Homo sapiens: one gene and its partners. The protein of the gene in region 2 interacts with the protein of the main gene of each other region in a biochemical or structural test. Each region holds a gene or a part of one and is shown on either strand. Other genes may lie near its edges.

What was found. The genes of interacting proteins can lie anywhere in the genome.
Region 1: the proteins of THRB (region 2) and TBL1X form a complex in vitro, tested with the Homo sapiens proteins (2 studies listed by BioGRID).
Region 3: the proteins of THRB (region 2) and NCOA6 form a complex in vitro, tested with the Homo sapiens proteins (2 studies listed by BioGRID).

What each region holds. Positions count from the first base shown.
Region 1 is NC_000023.11:9,460,453-9,468,057, reverse strand, and holds the start of TBL1X (F-box-like/WD repeat-containing protein TBL1X), read right to left. Parts: upstream 3,001-7,605; 5' UTR 2,611-3,000; intron 1-2,610. UniProt on the Homo sapiens protein: F-box-like protein involved in the recruitment of the ubiquitin/19S proteasome complex to nuclear receptor-regulated transcription units. Plays an essential role in transcription activation mediated by nuclear receptors.
Region 2 is NC_000003.12:24,120,826-24,127,850, forward strand, and holds part of THRB (thyroid hormone receptor beta), read right to left. Parts: intron 6,933-7,025; coding exon 6,674-6,932; intron 2,301-6,673; coding exon 2,059-2,300; 3' UTR 1-2,058.
Region 3 is NC_000020.11:34,745,652-34,752,676, forward strand, and holds part of NCOA6 (nuclear receptor coactivator 6), read right to left. Parts: intron 4,869-7,025; coding exon 3,752-4,868; intron 3,746-3,751; exon of another isoform or gene 3,048-3,745; intron 1,278-3,047; coding exon 1,156-1,277; intron 1-1,155. UniProt on the Homo sapiens protein: Nuclear receptor coactivator that directly binds nuclear receptors and stimulates the transcriptional activities in a hormone-dependent fashion. Coactivates expression in an agonist- and AF2-dependent manner.

The DNA.
Region 1 (7,605 bases), on a different chromosome or scaffold from region 2:
CACTTCTGCAACCTTCAGGCATGCGGTGGATTCTCCCTAAATACTGGATGGCGATGGCTGTGTGGGAGGGGGCCAGCTTGGGAGGCGCAGGCATCTGAAGTCAGGCTCCCGCTGGCCAGGCAGGCAGCAGCCCGGCGGACTCCTTAACGGCTGTCTTTCTCCCCTGGAGATCTGAAACGTCTCTCCTCAGCCTAGGCTCTTTGCCCTTTAGAAACATGTGGACTTCTTCGGCCCCTTCCCATATCCAGCTTTTCTTTTGGTTCTGGTGGGTTTCATGTTTGCCAGTCTGGCCAGCATGGTCCATGTGGTCGAGCCCCACAGAAAGTGAGGGCGGGAGTGGAGGGGGCAAGACCGGAGGTAAAAACTCGAGTCCAGTCTCCGGCTAACTAAAAATAGTTATGGGGGAAAAAAGTTTATCTTTCCAACTAAAAAAAAAAAAGTGTTTACAATATGCCTTTAGTGTTGCTTCCTGGGTGGAACTGATTTTTCAATGCATGTGGTAGTGAAAGATTAACAACTTCTCGGATGTAGCATATTAGGTTTTTTTGCTTTTCCTAAGGGAGGAAAAAAAGCAAATCCAAGGCATCAGGAAAGCAGTGGGAGGATGGTCCTGCCTCGCTGGGCAGAGAAGCTGTGCTGATCAGCTAAGCCAGGAGGCCCACAGGGCACTGCTGCGGGGCAGAGCACCGGAATCTGGACGCCCTGCAGAAAACTGGGAGGGGGCCGGACCCAGGTTCTAGCGGAGGTGTGCTCCTATCCAGCAGGAGTAGATCGGATAATCTGAATTCCTGACCCTCGGGACCTGCTGGAGATGGCCTCCCTCTGCAGGGACCATTTTCCCGCCTCTGTTCGTCACCTTAAAAGGTGAAAAAAAATCTTCTAACTAAGATGATGTTGTACAGAACCAGTGGTACTGATATAATTGATGGGAAAACTCCAGAAATTGAAACATTCACTTCTAAGTATGTCTACAATAAAGTTATTTTTGCAAACTGTTTCCTCTTTAAAACCACTGACAGAGAGAAGTTCTCTGAGGTAAAGGGGCAAAATGCCTGAGAGTTGGGGAGCGAGGGTGGCAGCACTACACCACAAATCTCCATATTTGCCCTACAGGTGTGTGTTCTACTAAGGGCTGGAATCGCCTTAAGGGCCGGTGATCCAGTGATGAACAACTTTTGTTGTTTGCATTAGTTACCCAGCTTGGTGGCTTTCCACAAAAATGTGCAGCACATTTGAGACAGGACTACCCTTTAAAATAAACGCGTCATACTCAACGTTCTTCTGTATTTTATTTTTCCTAATTACATCTTTTCTAGGAAGGACTTGTAAACTTTTCATAAAATCGTCAAGTGCCACTTCCAACACCAAAGCCACTGCCTGGAACCTTAGCAGGGAGGTTGCCTTCCTTCCCCCTCGCCTTCCAGGTTAAACCAGGGACTGGGCGATGTTTCAGGAGAGGAAAACATCCAAAAGGCAGGTCAAACCACACATGACAATGCAAAGCAGAAACAGTTGCAAATACAATAGAGGGTAGGTTTTTGTTTCTTTTTAGGTTTTGCTCCAGAACATCACTGACTCGAGAATAAACGTCAGTCCCTACCTTTGTGGAACGTCCAACGCAGCTGGCTGGGGGAACACGAGGCCTTGCAGGGAGCGAGCCCCGGCCCCGGTCTGACGGAACACAGGCGACGCACGTGAAGTCCAGGCCCTATCCCAGCGCAGGCGGGCCTCCAGCGACCCACAGTTGTCACATATCCGGCCAGCGCCGACTCCCGAAGGCGCACTCCCCATACTCCACTCCGAGCACCGGTCCCATCGTTAGGGAAGGTCCCCCTGGATAGCAAGGCCGGGGCCCAGGATCTGCGAGACCCACCCCACCCGCCCCGTCAGAGCCCAGGAGCAGCAACAGGTCTGCGCTCTCCCCGGGCGGCGCTCTGCAGACCCTCGACGGGCCAAGGGTGCCCCCAGCCCAGCCGTGCGCTCAGGCCGGGGAGATGGGCGGAGGACTGGGGCTCCCGACTTCCTTGACAGTTTCTGCGCGTCAGAAACTGAGCAGACACGGGGCCCGCGCCACCTCGCCCGCCGCTTGCCCCACTCCGCGAGGCTGCGCTTCCACCCGGGTCCGGGAGGGCCGGCCCGCGTCCCGGGTATGAATGGGGCTCTTCTCCCCAACAGCGGGGAAATCCCGCCACCGCCCTCCACCCCGGTCCCCGGAGCCCGCGGTGGCGCAGGTTTGCCCAGCAAGCCCCTGAATCGGCAGACAAAGGGGCACCGGAGGAAAAGCCGAGCGCTTCCCTAAACTTACCGGCCACTTCCCCCTCCCCAAAACAAAGGAGCCCCCCGCCGACCTCCGTCTCTCCCCGCAAGGCGCGCCGGCACTTCGGGGAGCGGCCACCTCGGGGTATTGTTCAGGCTCCTGGGAGCGCGCCGCACCCCAGTCCGAGCGCCGCGGGGACAGTTGGCGACCTGCACCTACAGGAGTTCCAGGGGCGGGTGGAGCGTTCGGGCGCCCCGAGCCGCCGGCCGGACCCTGGAGGGTCAGCGCGGGACCCGCCTCCCCGCAGAAGTTTGCGGACCCCGCGCCCGGCCCGCCGAGCCCTGCGCACTCACCTCGTCGCGAGCAGCGCAACTTGTGGCGGCGCCGCGCGCCCGGCCGCGCTCCGAACCTCCCTCCAGCCGGCAGCCTCCGAGTCCCGGCCGTGCGGCGGCCGAAGAGGGCCCGGCGCCCCGGAGCAGCCGCGCGCCGCCCCCGGGCCGCCCCCGCCCCGCCGCCGCCGAGTCCCGGAGAGAGCGCGGGCGCTGGAAAGTTTCGGTGGCGAATGGCGGCCTGAGGGCGCTGCGGCGGCGGCGGGGCGGGGGCGCTGGCGGCTCCTCGCTCCCAAGCGCGGAGTGGGGGCGCTGAGGCGGGCGCGGCGGCGGCGGCGGCGGCAGCGGGAGAGGGCGGGACAGCGGGAGGGACTGGCACGGACAGTGACCTCCACGGGGAGCTGCCGCGAGCGCGCGGACCCCAGCCAGGAGGACCGCCAGGGGTCCGCCCCCGCCGCCGGCCCCTCCCTCACGGCCGTGGGAGGGGACCCGGCGTACCACCCGGCCCCGCCCCTGCGCCCCGGGGGAGCCGCGTCCCGAACCAGCCCCTCCCCTACGAGGGTAGGGACTCCGGCCCTGCCCCTCCCCCGCGGCTCCTAGTGGGGACCCGCGTCCCAACCCAGCCCCTGTCCCACGGTCGGGGGACCAGCGTCCCTACCAAGCCCGCCCCGCTCCCCCACGCCTAGGGTGGGTGAGGGGAACCCGGGCCTCTCCCTAGTTGCTCTGGTCCCGGTCCCTTCCCCGTGGCCTCCGTGGGACTGAGAGGACCCCAGGGCTACCCCCATCACATCCCAAACCCAGCCTTTCCACGACTGCCTCGAGGGGACGGGAACCTCGGCCACCCCCTCAGTTTCTAGGGGGCAGGGGAACCTCGATCACTGCTAAAGTGTTACCCTCCCCCACCCCAAAAAGGAAGCCACCCGGCTGCCCCAACAGAACCCCCTGCCACCTGCCCGATGGTGAATCTCCCTCAAAATCGGCGTCTTAGAAGACACCCCAGTAGTCTTTACCCCAGCTCAAAAAGTGGGGGTTCCGGCGGAGCCTCGACCTTTGCAAAACACCTCCCAAGAAGAGCCAGAAATGCTTAGGGACAAACTCAGACACACAGGCATAGGCGCCAGGAACTCGGGTGTGGGGGCTGAGGAGGTTGGGGGGACCTGGGCACTCGGGCCTCATCACTCCCACCCCAACCCCCCAGGCATCAGCCCTCTGGCCCTTGCAAAGTGCTTTATGTTGCAATGGCTTACACGGCCTGGCCCCGGTGTACCTAAGTCCCCAGCGCTCCTTCCTCCCCTCCACGTAGGCTACTCCCAACCACTCGCAGCCTTAATTCAGTTAAACAGATCTCCACTCCCCCTCCCCAGCACCTCTGGGGTCAGCCTCGTTGAATATTTTTCAAATATTCTTGCCCCTTCCTTTACTATATAATGAGCTTCGTGCTAAGAGCCCGGTACACTCAGCAATCTAAACTATAACCTCACTTGCTCTTCCTCGAACTCTAGACCATTTGTTGTTCTGGTTGTAGGGGGAGGGGGACCTAAGGTGAGGTTTTTGTTTTTTTGTTTTTGTTTTTGTTTTTCTGAGGAGTCTCGCTCTGTCGCCCAAGCTGGAGTGCAGTGGCGCGCTGTCGGCTCATTGCAACCTCCACCACCCTGGTTCAAGCAATTCCCCTGCCTCAGCCTCCCGAGTAGCTGGGATTACAGGCGCATGCCACCACGCCCAGCTAATTTTTTTTGTATTTTTAGTAGAGACGGGGTTTCACCATATTGGCCAGACTGGTCTGAACTCCTGACCTCAGGCAATCCGCCGGCCTCGGCCTCCCAAAGTGCTGGGATTACAGGCGTGAGCCACCGTGCCCGGCCGGAGGTGAGTTTTTAAGAGGCCGGTCCTCCACCAAAACGGCGGACCTCAAAATTACCCTGCAAAATATTGCTGTAAAACGTCAATGATGCAAAACGACTGTTGCTACACCATCATTAGAGGACATCAATAAAAAAATACACACTTACACAGTCTCCATAATTGTGAATCAGCAGAATAGATTGTGTCTTATTATGTATCAGTTGCCATTCAAGGCCCCCCAGAAGGACATGGTGGGGCCTTCCCTTGAGCCTGCCCTTCGTTGCTCCTGGGCTCCCTGGGCTTGTGCAGACTGATGCTGAGGTATTACATGCAATAGAAAAACGAAGGGTGCAATAGAAAACCCGAACGAGCTCATGATGCAACCCTGCCCTGGCTACACGTGCTTCCCTTCCCCCACCGCCTGCTGGTGGGAGTGCTGCGTTTTTTCCGCCTGTAGGGTCACATTGTGGTTGATTGATTCTCCTTTCGCCTTGCTCAGTCATTCAGATTTGGAAAGTAAATAACAAGTTGACATCATTACAGCTCTGGGCTTTACGCGGACGCAGCCCTCGGCTACCGCACACTCTGGAGTAGCTGCGCAGCCAACCAGCCTCCTAGCTTGCCAGACCTGCTTGTGGTTAGCAGTTGGAAATTCCAAGCTAAACTTGGTTAAAAGGCCTCTTTGTGTGTTTTGATTACTTGGCAGATGCCAGTCTTTTAAAGTATGGGAAAGTGGTGGAAATCCTCACTTTCAAACTGGAGCCCAGTGTGGCCAGGATTTACAGCTGAGCTCCTGTAATTGACAATGCAAAAGAGCTGAGAATTCATCTTGACTGTTTGACAATATCCCCATAATCCCACCACCCTTATTACCCGTAAAGAGTCAATATCTTTTATCATAGACTCACAGGACCCCAAAGGACACTGTAAGACCTAAGACAGGAAGAGAGACCGCCTACATTTATCGTGAAATCACCAAAATTCCTCTTTTTGAAATACTAGATGGACTGTAGGTGGGTGATAATTAGACTGTGTTATTTAATCTGTTTCAACGATTTTTCAAATGTGCAGTCCTATAAGGTGGGAGAAAACAAGGAAATAAAGTAGAGCGGCAAGGAGGTAGTGTATTCTGAGAAAGCTAAAGGATAACAGGGCGAGGGGTCCACAGTGATTTACACAGAAACCCACTGCACTAGCCATGTGCGTGTGTGCGCGTGTGTGTGTTGCAAACACTTATTTTCAGTTATTGACTGGAGGGAGGGGAAAACAAGAATCTGCTTGCAACAAATACTACCAGCATTCCCCATAAACAGTACCCAAAATTTTAATTAAAAGGCAGTAGGAATTCACACAAATATACTTAACTAATCTTTCACAAAGGAGCAAAGGCAATTCATCCTTTTTAACAAGTGGTGCTGGAACAACTGGACACCCATATGCCAAAAAAAAAAAAAAAACTAGGCTTTTTATCTTTCACAAAAATTAACTTAAAATAGAACATACCCCCAAATGTAAAAGGCAAAACTATAAAAACTCTTAGAAGATAACATAGAAAATCTAGATGACCTTGGGTTTGGTAATGACTGTGTAGCTAGAACACCAAAAGCATGATGCGTAAAAGAAAAAAAAATTGGTAAGTTGGGCATCACTAAAATTTGAAAAGTCTACAAAAGACACTGTTAAGAGAATGAGAAGACAAGTCACAGAATGGGAGGAAATATTTGCAAATTCCATATCTGATTAAGGATTGTATTTGAAATATGCAGGCCAGCATAGTGGCTCACACCTGTTGAGGCTGCTGTGAGCTGTGATCTCACCACTGCACTCCAGCCTGGGCGACAGAGAAGACCTTGTCTCTAATTTTTTTTTAGAGTGTGTGTGTGTGTGTGTGTGTGTGTGTGTGTGTGCGTGTACAGATATATGTACATATGTGTATATGTATGTGTATATATATATACATATTTCTTAAAACTCCACGATGAGAAAATAAACAACTGAATCAAAGAGCAAACGATCAGAAAAAAACTCATCAAAGAGATATACAGATGGCAAGTAAGCATATGAAAAGATGCTGAACATCATATATCATTAGGGAATTGCAAGTTAAAGTAACAATGAGATACTACTACATACATTAGAATGGCTAAAATCCAGAAAACTGACAATCCCAGATGCTGACAGGATGCAGAACAACAGCAACTCTCATTTGTTGCTAATGGGAATGCACAATTGTACAGCTACTTCAGAAGACAGTTCGGCAATTTCCTACAAAGCCAAACAGAGTCTTACCATACAGTCAGCCGTTGTGCCCCTAGGTATTTACCTAACTAAGCTGAAAACTTACGTGCTCCAAAAACCTGCACACAGAGGTTTATGGCACCTTTACTCGTAATCACCAAACACTGGAAGCAACCAAAGTATCCTTCACTGGGCGAATGGATAAACAAACTGTGGCTCACCCGCATAATGGAATATTACTCAGCACTACAAAGAAATGGGTTATCAAGCCCCCAAAACACACAAAGGAACCTTAAATGCCTATTGCTAAGTGAAAGAAGCCAGTCTGAAAAGGCCATATACTGTATGATTCCAACCATATGACATTCTGGAAAAGGGGAAACAGATAAGACAACAATAAGATCAGTGGTTGCCAGGGGTTCAAGGAGGAAGAAGGGATGAATGGGTGGAACACAGTGGGTTTTTACAGTGGTGAAACTATTCTGTGTAATACTATGATGGTGGATACACGTTATTATACATATAAGTGTGTGTGTGTATATATATTTGTCAAAATTCACAAAATGTACAACACAAAGAGGAAACCCTCATGTAACTATGGACTTTAATTAATAATAATATATGAATACTGGCTCCTTAGTTGTTACAAATGTACCACACTAACTTAAGATGTTAATAACACTGGAAGCTGGGGAGAGAAACATGTAACTCTGCACTATCGGCTCAGTTGTTCTGCAAATCTAAAGCTCTTCTTAAAAAAAAGCCTATTATTTATTTTTTTTTAAAAAAGAAACACTGTGCCAAATGCTGTGGCTCACACCTGTAATCCTAGCATTTTGGAAGGCTGAGGCAGGAGAATCACTTGAGCCCAGGAGTTCAAGACCGGCTTGGACAACACAGTGAGATCCCATCTCTACAAAAAACAAAAATAAAAAAATT
Region 2 (7,025 bases):
CTTCCTTTCTCTGGGTAACAAGTTCCATAGCAATGTTCTTGTTTCCTTTTTCCCAGAAGCCAGTACAATTGCTTTCATGCATTGAATATTTAATTCCCCGCTCCCAGATAATTTCCAATCATACTTGGAATTTTCAGTGCTGTTCCTCTTCTTTTTCCAAGGCCTCTAAATGGTTGACTAGTATTGTGTCAAATTATTATTTCGAGCCAATAACAAATTTACGTTCCTTAACTGTTAAGTGGGCCATACTTCTTGTCTAATAAAGTTAGGAATTTAAGTGTTAAAAAAAAATAATTAAAGGAACCAGATTTTTTTTTTCCCCTTGAAATTCAGACAATATTAAGGGCAGGAAGGGTTTTAGAGATCATGACTTATTCACCAGGTAAGAAAACCAAGACCTAGAATTACAAATCTACCAGTTGACAGAGCACGAACTAGAACTCAGGCACCCAGACTTCTGGGCCAGTTATGCTCCACCAAACTTACAAAAAGCATCTACTTGGTTTCCATAGTGACTTTCCTTCCTTTGTTTTTAGGTAAATCTCACTGATATGGCTTATTTTCCCCAATATTTCCAGGATAAGGCAGTAAAAGGTAGGCAAAGGAATAGTTTATATCTACTATGCCAGTGGAGAATGAGATACATTCAATTGCATGGGTACATTCTATGCCCATTTTCTGACGCTGAAGAGATGAAGTGTCACTGTTTGTTTTCTGGGCACAAGCTATTCTAGCATGGGCCGTTGGGGAGGCAGGTTGGGCAGGAAAGTTAAGTGTGCACATGGTCTGCAGGTGTTTTCTATTGAGTATCTGTCAGGGTATGCTATGAGAGGGACAGGAGGGTCAGTGGCAGGGCCAGTCTCTGTTTAGAGATAGTCAAGCTATTTAGTTCCTCAGAGTCAGAGGGAAAAAGGGGACTAGGAGACATTTGTCAATGAGGCAAGGAGCTTGAGGATCTAACCAGGAGGAAGCGTCCTCCAGCCATCAGGACACAAAGGGGCCCTCAGAACACTGCATTTCCTTCAACTCAGAATGTAGCTGCACTAATCTCGCCTCAGCATTTCTCCAGAAGAAGACTGAAGTTTCACCGTATCTTTCCTTGATTAGAATATTTGATCCATAGAGAAATCTGTTGTCAGCTCAGCAAAGATACAACCTGGATAAAGAACTTCAGGAGCTTGGGAGATGACAGATCAGATGCCACAGAAAAGGGGTGCCACCCTGTAAATAGGTTTGATTTCTGTAAAAGTGTTCTCTGAGCCTAAATGGGAAAGAAGCCTTCCTACTGTGAGGTAATACTATGTGAATTTTTGGAAACCATGCAGTCACTGACATTGGTGAAGATTTCTAATTTCTCTGGGCTCACTGAAAAAAAATATTTTCCTTGTTGGCCTCCATCAGTCAATACCTGCACATCCTTGAGTCACACCTTTGTATAACTTGAATTAAACCATAACGTTATAAAAATGATATTGGAAGGGCAGCTGATTTTTTTAGGACACAAATATTCCTGTACATTCCAAGTTATGCTCCTAGGAGACCATAAAGAGTGCTGCAAACAGCATGCTCTTGAATAGATGAAAATTTGTTCGAGTCTTTCCCTAAAAGGCTGAAAGCCACATCTAACTAAAGGTGGTCTGTGCTCTGTTAACTTCAGCCCTGCGAACATCAGGATTGGGTGGAGGTGGTCGTATTATCTTGGTTTTAAGGCTTCTTTAGTGTCCTGTGGCGCCATTTTGCTGACTCAAGTCTTGGACCAGGGACGGGTGGGAGCTGGTGATGCTTGGTGCTGGTGAGTTAATGATTGTCCCCCACCCCACCTCCACAACCATAAAACCTTCAGAGCATTCACATCACAGGACCGGAGAACGAAATGCAATAGTTTCAAGTACCCGCATTCAAGGGGCAATTTCATCCATGTCTATGCCAAGGACTACTTCCCTTTTCCCTCCCAAATAATCCCTCCCAACACAAAGAAACAAACAAAAAAGAGCTAGGCAATGGAATGAAATGACACCCAGTAGTGCTGTAGGAATTATGAGAATGAATCCAGTCAGTCTAATCCTCGAACACTTCCAAGAACAAAGGGGGGAAGAGTTCTGTGGGGCATTCCACCTTCATGTGCAGGAAGCGGCTGGCATGGCAGGCTCCTATCATCCGCAGATCTGTCACCTTCATCAGGAGTTTTGGCCAAAAGTGTGTCACGTGGTGTTTTCGGTAATTGATATAGTGTTCAAAGGCCAGCAGGAAACTATCTTGGTACTTTTCTATTCTCTCAACACAGGCAAGCCCCGGGCGATCTGCGGGGAAGAGAGAAGATGGACATTGATTCAGAGATGGAAGGGGGAAGGCTTGCTTTGTCCAATTCCAGGCCTTTATTGGGGGGCGGGCAGATCTAGGGTCTTCCCTCTTAGCCATGAGCATGGATGCAGCGTGAACTCTGGTGCTCCAGGGACCAGGTACCAGGGGAGTGGCATCATTTATATGAAGAGAGGCAGTACTTTGTTCAGATAAATATCTCTGTTTAGACAGTTTAGCTTGAGTGTGAATTACCTTCTTGAGTGTGAAAGGTGATGCCTCCCTCCTAGGGTACAGAAGGAGAAGCCTGACATAGCTGAAATATTCTGCAAGATGAGGGGAACAATTTTGAATTTTCACTGGCTGCCTGGCAGAGAGGAGAGGATGAGCGTGGACATGCATAGAAGGGGGAGATATATGAAGGGACTGGGGACATTGCAGCAGGCCTGAGGCCAAAGGAGGAACGCGGAATAGTAAGACATTTCCTTGAGGACCAAGAAACACCATGTTTAATTTTGTGTTGTCTTCCAGGCTGCAATGAACTGGCCTTTCCCTTCCCTTATGCCTTTAGTAAAATTGCTACCAGTAGCAGCCTTGTATTAGTCATGATTTTGGAATTGAAATGAAAAGGGGAGGGGAGCTGTGCCAGAGTCACCCCATGCAGAGAAGAGAACAGCTATAGTGGGAGCTGGAGTGAGAAGACACCGGGACCCTGGAAAGCCCAGCAAATCTTCCCAAGTCCTGTGCAGACTACTGGGCTTCCCATAGTATGTGGGAGAGGCTCAAGTCAGTTTCCAAAAGTGGCAAACAAAGGGGTGACACAAGGAGGCTGGGCAACTGGGGAATAGTTGGGCTGCAGACACTTGGCTGACAAAAATAATCTATAAACCCGGATGAATTCCTCAAATAGCTCCAGGAGGCCCAACGTGCCCCTGCTAAGTTCTCTTCAGTTTGTTCTTTGTGGCTCTGATCAAATGAATTCACACTTCAAAGGTCCAATTATTGAGGTGTCTGTATCAATAGGAATCGAAACAGGGTTCTGCTTCATTGGAAAGGAAGGATCAGGGCTAATGTCTCAATTCACCCTTCTGAGTCTAAACAAACTAACAAACCATATGGGCTTTTGGAATCCCCTATTTAGCACAAATGGCAATTCGTGCATTTTTATCTTGTGTTTTCCTTCATATTTGATGAAGCTGCTCTGCAGATTTGCTGGTTCTCCCTCTCTCCCTTTCCCCTATCTTCTCTCTTTCTTTGAGTGTGCAAGAATTTTCCACAGGATCCTTTAATTTTTGACCCAAATAGAAGATCAACATATTATTGCTTTGGATGTGTTCTTTCAAAGGGAAAAATATAATGTGGGTTTTGTGGCATCAAAGAGATAAAGACGAGATGGCCACGTAAATGACATAGCGAGTACAAATTGACATTTTGATGATGCTTGAATCACACTGAACAGGTTTATGAAGAGAGAAACATTTTAAAGACTGAAGACCATTTTAACTCCTTAAGACAAAAGTTCTTAAAGAAATGTCTTTCAGATCATTTTCATTTTTTCTCTTTGCACTGTGGGACCAAGGAACTTAGAAGTAGTGGCTCTTGGAAAAGTCTTTGAAGAAAAAGTCTAAGATATTGTGTAACCGAAATGGCACACAAAACATGGGGCTTAGAACATCAGGCCCCATGATAGAACTGGAGACTTGGGGCCCTGACACGCAGCTATCATTTGCCAAATGCACAATGTCTTGTAATATTTTTCTGGTCCTGGCAGTATTAATGAAGAGGGTCCACATCACTGGGGAGGGTGGATTGTGAAAAGTTATTAAGTTGTCCTGTAGCTGTCAGGCAGTGTCAGCCTCACAACATGAGAGAACTGGGAAGAATCATTCAGTTTGGTGTTTGATAGTGTTTGGCATCACATTCACAGTTTTTGTCATCTCCACCTACTTTTCCTTTTATCTACCTTACTTAGATTATTTGCTTAATAATCTGTTAAACTGACCCACTACAGAGGAAACATCTTATTATTCAGTAATAAAAATCCATTTGACATAAATCAGAAGATAACCACAAAAATAGATGCATGGCAAAAGCCTTTGTTACTTTGGAGCTGAAGGTTCTGGCTGAACATTGCTCCTGAGATCCACTCTCTCTTTGTTAAAAAAGAAGGTAAGTGTCAAGAGAGGTGTTAAAGGCAGACTAGCACCACACCGAATCTCTCTCCTTGCCTTATTTGGAAGGAGATATAACCAGGAAGAAAACCGTCAGAGAAACAGCTTTCTCGTGGTGTGATTCAACATTATTTAAAACTGTCTTTGTACCTCTAAAATCTCAGCTAAAAAAATTACCATGAGTCCCTCCAGAAATATAATTCCCGTGTATGTAGCTTAATTTCTTCATTTTAAAGGTCACTGAAGTCCAGAGAAGCTAGGGGTCACCCAAAGTCACACAAGGAGTCCTTGGATAAGCTATAAATTTTATTTCTTTGAGACTAATTCTCCTGAACGACTGTGGGCCCCATTTCTTGCTGGCTGTCACTGGAGACCACCCTCAGCCCTAGAGGTCATCTATAGCTCCTGTCATGGGAACTTTCCCCACATGGCGGTTTACTTCATGAAGCTGGCACGGAGAGTCCCTAGAGCAAGTCTGCCAGCAAGAGGGAATCTTAGATTATGTAATGTAATCACAAGGGGTGACATCAAATTTGCCATATTCTCTTGGCTAGAAGCAAGGTACAGGTCCTGCACACACTGAAGGACAGGAGATTATCCAAGGTGTGAACATTAGGAGGTGGTGGGGAGTGTAGGAGGCCGGTCTGGAGTCTGGGTGCCACAGTGTACATGGGAGTTCATTATGCTATTCTATCTGCTTACCCTTGAAATTTTCCATAATAAAAAGAATTATTTCTTTCTTTTTTTAAAAGTCTGCCATATCTAAATTTCCTATAGTAAATACATTTCTAGATTAGCTTTAAAAAAAGAATTCTAGGCCAGGCGTGGTGGCTCATGCCTATAATCCCAGCACTTTAGGAGGCTGAGGTGAGAAGATCACTTGAGCCCAGGAGTTCAAGACCAGACTGGGCAACATAGTGAGACCTGTTTCTCTCTACAAAACAATAAAAAATTAGCCAGGGGTGGTGGCGTGTGCTTGGAGAGGCTGAGGCAGGAGAATCTCCTAAGCCCAGCAGGTCAAGCCTGCGATGAGCTGTCTTTACACCACTGCACTCCAGCCTGGGCAACAGAGCAAGACCGTGTCTCAGGTTAAAAAAAAAAAATTTCCTACTGAGTTAACCAGGAAGCAGCAACTCTACAAAGAATTCTCGATGTACTTGTGACCGATATTTTATCCACATATTCAGCCATTTATCCAATAAGCATTTCTTGAATTCTATTGCACACTGGCCTAGGTGCTGGATGTACAGTTAGACACATCTATGTCCTCAAAAAAAAGAAGTCCACAGGGACTTACGTGGACAAGTGAAGCAGGTAGTTACAGTGCAGAGTGACAAGTGCCAAAGCACATCTACACTTGGGTGCCCTGAAAATGCAGAGGACTCTGAAACCACTTCTATTTAAAATTATCTTCCCTGAAAGGGTTTGATGTGTAGTGGCTTACAGACGGCTGCCCATTCTGTGCTATCCTCCCATCTACAGGGGGACCGTTGAGTCCTGGCTGGCACTCAGACTTGTTTGGGCCAATCCAGTGTGGATGAAGGGATCCTGTGTGATTTGAGACTGGGCCTCATGGGATCTGCAACTTCTGTTTTCGTGTGCTTGGGACTCTTTCTCTTGGAAATCAACAGCCAAGTAAGAAGTCTACCCTGCCGGAGGAAAGGCCGCATAGAGGGAGGCCTGAACCAGTGTTTGATGTCCCAGCTGAACTCCAGCCATCTTGGATGTTTAAGCCACTAAGTTTTGGGTCGGTGTGCTATTTAGCAACAGATAACTAAAACTTCAGTTGTAGCTAAGCCATGAACAAATTCTAGCCTGCATCCGCGGTTTCCACACACAGAACTTAACACACAATCGTGTGGTCACTCACATCCATATCTGGCATACCCCAAACCAGAAGGAGGCAGGTTTGGCCAAAGACTACGAAGAGGGCTGCACAGTATCCACCAAAGGCGGATCACTTCGTAGAGTCTTTAAGATGGCTCCTTTGGCTTCTTTCTATCCTGGGACACTGCAAAAAGCATCAGACATCTGACGCCCCCCCTTTAAGTTCCCAGTCCACTGGCAAACCTGCAATTTCTTACTGAAGAAGAGTGAGCTATGTTTCTGAAGCTAAAGGGGGACTGAAAACTCAAGTGATTGGAATTAGCGCTAGACAAGCAAAAGCTCTTTGGATGCCCACTAACGAGTCTAGGCGTACTCACCTGAAGACATCAGCAGGACGGCCTGAAGGAGGGCTACTTCAGTGTCATCCAGGTTGAAAGAAGACAGAGACATGCCCAGGTCAAAGATGGCGTCTGACACCACCCCAAGACCCCCATTTTTCAGCTGGCCCCGTGTCACTGCCATTTCCCCATTCAAGGTTAAAGTCTCACTTTCTGGGTCATAGCGCACAGCAGCGCGAAGGGACATGATCTCCATGCAGCAGCCTTTGAGGAGGATGATCTGGTCTTCACATGGCAGCTGAAAAGAACCAGTTCATGTCAGCAAAGAACAAATGCAAAAATGCCAGTCAGGAACAACATACAGTATCTTAAAAGCAATAGGAATAACCTT
Region 3 (7,025 bases), on a different chromosome or scaffold from region 2:
AAAAGAAGTTGAAATAACTAGTGAGGAAGAAACAAAACATACCCTCTGTACACACAGGGGAGAGTGGCCTAAGTGTGAAGGGTTGTGTATCTTCAACCGTGTCATAGGGGAATAAAGTTACAAGTCATTGCTCAGGCCAAGATAACCAGGTATAGAGATATTGTGGCAGCTGGCCTTGGTTCTATAATATCTAGGTTTGAATGAATTAATTTTAGGAGCTTTTCCATCTTTGACATAATTTTTCAACATTTAAAGGATAGTATTATTTTATAATCAGAGAGGATACAACAAAGGGGGCTTCCAATATTGGTCCTATTTATTATAAATTATTAACCTATGTGGTAGATACATGGGTGTCTCTTTTATTCTTTATATCTTCTTTATATTTTAAAGACTCATTAATGAAACTTCTATAAAAAAGATCATCTTGTTTTAAACCCTGGTAGTTCCCTGCTTTGAGAAGCCCCAGGAAGAAACGCTGCAGGAAAGGCAGGCAAGCAGGATTAGAGTGAAATCATCTCTCCATTTAATCTTATCCTGTTCTGATGCCAACTAGAATCTTGACATTGACAAGAATAAAGAGGCACTTCACATTTCATGGTTTTTTTTTTTTTTTTTGAGACAGGGTCCCAGGCTGGAGTGCAGTGGCATGATCATGGCTCACTGCAACTTCGACTTCCTGGGCTCAGGTGATGCTCCCACCTCAGCCTCCTGAGTAGCTGGGACTATAGGTGCGTGTCACCACACCTGGCTAATTTTTAAAAAATTTTTAGTAGAGACAAGGTTTCACCATGTTGCCCAGGCTGGTCTTGAACACTTGCGCTCAAGCGATCTGCTCATCTTGGCCTCCCAAAGTGCTGTGATTACAGGTGGATGAGCCATCATGCCCAACCACATTTCAGTCCGATTTTATGAGGACTTAAAATAACAAAGACAAATTTGAATAGAATGTGTGTGTGTATGTGCCTTCAAAAGTTATATTTGAAATTTTTACTTAATATCAAGGCAAAGCTTCCAAATACCAGACACATTAAATCACTGAAGTAGACTAGTTAGCAGATAAAATAAAATACTATTGTTTCCTTGAAGACATGGAAGCCTTGTAATGCCACATGCACATGTAATAAGTATATAATCTAGCTAACATTTTATCACCTGGTGGCCGGTTTGAAAATTCTGGCAGTTTAGGGCCTGAGTTATCCAAGTTAATTCCTTGTTCTCCAGGCAACGGTGGCTGATCAGCCTCTTCCAGACCAGCTGGGCGAGTATCTGGGGTGCTAAAAAAAAAAAAAAAAAAAAAAGTGACATATTTTAGAATAAGTTGTATAGAAAATACACAAAACTAGCTTAACCCTTCCCCTATTTCTGAAGAACTAAAATGTTTGCATTACCATTATTCATCTCTCTCTAGTCTAGATAAAATATTAAATATTGGCATAAAAATAATCTGGCAATTTCATTAAATGTTAAAATCCATTTAATCTAACAGCACTGTATTTACTCAGAATGCTTTCCACAAATTCCTGGTGCAATAATTTTCATGTAATCACCCATTCCTTAGCTGTTTTAAGACCTGATCATAGGACTATCAATGTTACAAGGTACTGTTCCTGTGAAACCACACTATCTTCAATGTAGCGATCAAATTCAACTAGGGGGTCTGATTGTTTCTTTTTTGTGGATATAACAGTGGGGGCTCAATTCATAACACCTTGCAAAAGGTTGTATAGGTTGGCTGATGGTATTCAGAGAACAAAGAAAGATTGAGACCACCACCACAAAGATTTTGCTGCAGAATGAGAATTTGCAGACATCTCTATTTGCTTTGAGATGCCTTTGCTTTTACCTGGGTGTAGCTTAAAATTTTTAGTAAGGAAGAAAAAAATGAAGAAATTGTAGCTACTAACACCCACATTCTCAAAGAACAAGACTGGTCACGGGCCTCATTTTGTTTGTAATCTCAGTACTAATTGTACTTTTCTTTTCTATCTTTAGTTTCCCTTTGCCCTGATTTTGTTCACCCACTTTTAGGTAGTGTTTTGTCTCATTATACTCTGTACAGTTTCATAAGCCACAAAAATCCACTTTAAAAGCCTCCCAGCAAATGGAAATTTAGAACCTGAAGCAGATCGTCAGCACATCCAGACCTATAACAATTTGCTCCTTGTAAGACTTCTCTCTCACTTTAAATTACAGGCAAGAATTCAGTGGTAACCTTTACTTTCAGAAAATTGTAGAGATAAGAAATCTCAGATATCTGGTCCAGCCCCATCATGTTATGAATGAGAAAACTAAGGCCCAAAAAGGTGTATGAAACAGGCCCAAGATTCCACAGTGAAGTAGTGGTAGAGCTGGAAGCAGGTACTTTTCCTGTAAATCCACTGTCTCCCTTTCCTGGGAGTCCTGATGCTGTGTAAGGTCCCTTTCACAATTTGTAGACCTAAGTAACCAATTTCCCTAAGGGCTGGTGAAGATGGCAAAAAATACACACTAGAGGCAACTGAATAACCTTGCAATTTTACTCCCAGACTACCGAGAGAATAAAATATTTATTAAATAATTATTCCCATAGGTTGATGCTAGTAAAGAATTTAACTGAGAAAGAGCTATCAGAAAAATTAGATAATTAACTTTGAATTCAGGAAAATATAGGTTATCATTAATAATACACCATGATTAGCTTTTAAAGCATAAGATTCAAGAAGAGGCAAGTGAGCATGATATAATACAGTACAAAGAATGTTGTGGGAAGGCTGGGATAAAGGTAGTTGGTTTAATTTTGAATATTTAAGCTGGTTGAAATAAAGTTTCTTGATTCTTTTTCTATAATTCTAACAATTTATTTCAATTAACCTGTTTTACATTCATTAGCCATTATTTCCTCATTTATTATTTTTTTATGATTAAAGGCACAAAATATAGCTCAGTGAATATTCCTTCTGGAAACATTTTATCAAACCCAGAAACACAAATTAATACTTAGCTTCAGGAAATGAAATATAAATTGTTAATTGCCTTTCCTGCTATGATCTTGCAAAATAACTCACCTGGAGAACGTTTACTGAAAGGGTAACTGATTTAAAAGGTCCAATCATCTTAGCGTGGGGTTTTAAGCTTCTAGGGATGATAAAGAGCCTTTAAAGGAAAGGCACCTGTGCAAAAAAACCATTTCTATTTGAGAGACAGCAGTAGTTTTAATTTCCAAAACACATTTGGCCTCTCTGGTTCCCCAATAGCCATCATAAGCCTAAAGTCAGTGCTTTGTGGAGTTGCCATATGGTAGCACTGGTTACTTTTCAGGCTCTGATTGCCAAAACCCCCCGACACTGTAAAATTAAGAGATATACCAGCCAATTGCAACATATGAATCTTGTTTGGATCCTTATTTGAACAAATTGTAAGAAAAAAATTTGAGATAATCAGGGAAGTTTGAACACTGGATATGAGAGTACTAAGGAAGTATTAGTTTTCTAGGTGTGCTAACAATATTGTGCGGGCATATTAAAAAGTGTCCTTATCTTTTAGAGACACACACTGAAATATTTACCCAGCGAATTTGCTTTGAAATACTCAAAAGGGTAATGGAAGAGAGTACAGATGAAGGCAAGACAGACTATGAGTTGATAATTATTGAAGCAGGGGGATTTCATTATACTATTCTAGTTTTATATTCTGTAAAATTTTCCATCAAAAAAGTTATCCACACAGAAAACAAATGAATAAAATTTGAGGCAAAACCATCACAACCTACTTTAGATCTTGCTGACTATTTTTCTTCTTCCGAGGGGGTTTCTTCTTCTTCGGTTTATTTGCGTTGGTATTATTTTGCTTATTGTTTACCCCAAAATGGCCTGCAGATATGTCACTCTGCAATAAGTTGACCAACAATGGGCTCGTTAGCGTGACATCCTTATTGACTGGGAAGCCTGGATTTTGACCACAGGACATCTGATTTCCATTGGGAGCTCCACTGAAAGGTGCATTGAAAGACATCCCATGGCCTGAGAAGTGGTTTCCCGAGGCACTGTTTCCCTGCATGGCCTGCACATGAGGGGGGACCATGTTGGTTTGTTGAATGCTAACATCAGGCATCATCTGAGATAAACTGACATCGTTATTTGCTGTAGTAGCAGGATCACCATGCTGCTGGGCCATGTGTGGGCTGGGCCCTGGTGGCCGCAGGACCTGTCCCTGAATGCCCATAACCTGAGATGGACTGTTGTTCACAGGCCCTTGCTGGGGCAGCATCTGTCCTGACATCTGTCCCGTAAACTGCACCATATTTCCTTGCATGTTTGGAGTTGGTCCCCTCATTATCTGGGCTGGTCCCGGCATGACATTGGACTGGTTCTGAGTGTTAAACTGCTGCTTATTCCCCTGCATTTGATTGGTCATAATCTGCTCTATCATTGGGTTCTGTTGGAGCAAAACCTGCCCCTGAGGCCCCATCATCTGGTTATGTGGCGCCATCATTTGTGGGCCCTGCTGGGAAAGCATCTGCTTGGGTGGGGTCATCCTTTGGGGCGAGGGCCCAAGATTTTGGCTCGGGGGGTTCACCATCATCTGGCCCTGTGGCATAAGCTGGGCCCTTGAAAGGATCATAGGGTTCTGAGGGTTCAAGGTTCCTTGTTGCTGGACCATCTGGCCCTGGGAGGGCACGATTTGCTGGTGCATGCCCATCAGCTGAGATGGTGGGCCCTGCTGGGGCTGGCCTTGCATGTTGCTGAGGTTCACTTGAGGAACCCCAGAAGTACCAGCCTGCTGATTGTTCATGTTGCCATGAATTCCCATGAGGCTGGGCTGCATCATATTTGGCGGCCCGTGGGACACCTGCATCTGGTTTTGAGGAGGACCAGCTCCTTGACCACCTTAAAAAAAAAAAAAGTCACAGTTTCAGAAATAAATATTTTTATCTTATTGGTATTAAGATACTCAAGTTACATTACTCAGAAAGACATCCATCACCCTTATATCCACTGACCAACATAAATATGCTGTTGACATACTTCCTGTGAGTTTTCTAAACTACAAAGATGTGGCTGTGGGATAACTGCTTACATTCCCAATGACCATATAATAGAGAAGGAGAAACAGTTTCTACATTCCCATATGGTATCTTAAAGATTTAACGTTTCAAAGATCAAGAAAGTTTACTTTCTTTCAGATTAAATAATGAGAAAGGCAGCATCTCACTGTTTTAAAATGACTTGTAGTGGCCAGGCTCGGGTGGTTCATGCCTGTAATCCCAGCACTTTGGGAGGCTGAGGCAGGCGGATTGCTTGAGCCTGGGAGGTGGAGGTTGAAGTGAGCCAAGATCATGCCATTGCACTCCAGCCTGGTGACAGAGTGAAACCCCGTCTCAAAAAATTAAATTAAATTAAATTCAAAAAGCACTATGGGCTACTGAAATAACTCTGCTATAAGAATGTGAAGTGTCGGCCGGGCGCGGTGGCTCACGCCTGTAATCCCAGCACTTTGGGAGGCCGAGGCGGGTGGATCACGAGGTCAGGAGATCGAGACCATCCTGGCTAACAAGGTGAAACCCCGTCTCTACTAAAAATACAAAAAATTAGCCGGGCGCGGTGGCAGGCGCCTGTAGTCCCAGCTACTCGGGAGGCTGAGGCAGGAGAATGGCGTGAACCCGGGAAGCGGAGCTTGCAGTGAGCCGAGATTGCGCCACTGCAGTCCGCAGTCCAGCCTGGGCGACAGAGCAAGACTCCGTCTCAAAAAAAAAAAAAAAAAAAAGAATGTGAAGTGTCCTCTTAGGAAAACCTCAACAATCATGAGAAGACATTTAAAAATGCTTCTTGGAAAACTGTAATAATAATGACTCTCAAAAGCTATGTGTGTGATATGTGGATGCTGCACTTCAAAGAAAATAACACCAAGGACAGGTGTCCTCTGCCCTGATGTGGTAAAAAGCAGTTAATCTTGATCTGGAAGCTGAGCCTCTGGTGGGAGCCAACTGACTAGATGACCCATCTGGAAGCTGCAAATAGAGGAATAATAAAACCTCAGTGACCCTCTCCTGCGCAGTCCCTGGTGAATCATGTGGCACATGTTTTAGTCTTCTCAGCTATTTCTAACTTAGACAAAAGTTGCTACCCGCCTTGCTGTAGTGCTTATTTATTTACTGGGTCTTTGGGATTTTCCTATAGCTACTTGCATTATCTCCCCGTTTAACTGAATAACTTTGTAGTTAATTTTGTCCCTTTTATTTTTCACTTTTTTTGTTGTTTTGTTTTTGAGACAGAATCTGGCTCTGGTGCAACCTCGGCTCATTGCAACCTCCACCTCCTGGGTTCAAGTGATTTTCATGCCTCAGCCTCCCCAGTAGCTGAAACTAGAAGCGCACAACAACACACCCGGCTAATTTTTGTATTTTCAGTAGAGACAGGGTTTCAGCATGTTGGTCAGGCTGGTCTCGAACTGCTGACCTCAGGTGATCCACCCGCCTTGGCCTCCCAAAGTGCTGGGATTACAGGCTGAGCCACCGCACTTGGCCTTATTTTTCACTTTTAAATGGGGACTAGAAAATCCCCTACAATGAAGTTATGAAGCCAGTCCATGCTCCAACTATGAAGGCAGGGGGCAAACTACCTTGTTCACACTATCCAGACTTCTCCTGAACTCTAAGGAAGATTTTCTAAACCAGCCTTATAAACTCAAAGTGGAACTCCATGACCATTGTATATGCTTGTATACAATAAATATACTGTGTATATTCATTCAACTGACAATTATTCATTAAGTACCTGATACATAGAAGGCACTTTGGTGCTGAGGTAACATCAATAAACAAGACAGACCAAATCCCTGCATCCTTGGAGCCTACAGTCTAACTGGCAAGAGACACAACTAACAAACAGACAAGTATTTTTTCAGGAAGCAGTAAAAGCTAACAAGAGAAAGTAGGGTGAGAGAAGAGAAAGTAAGAGATAAGAGTAGAGCTACTTTAGATAGGATAAATGGGGAAACCAAAACATGTACACGTGGGCCGGGCACAGTGGCTCAGGCCTGTAATC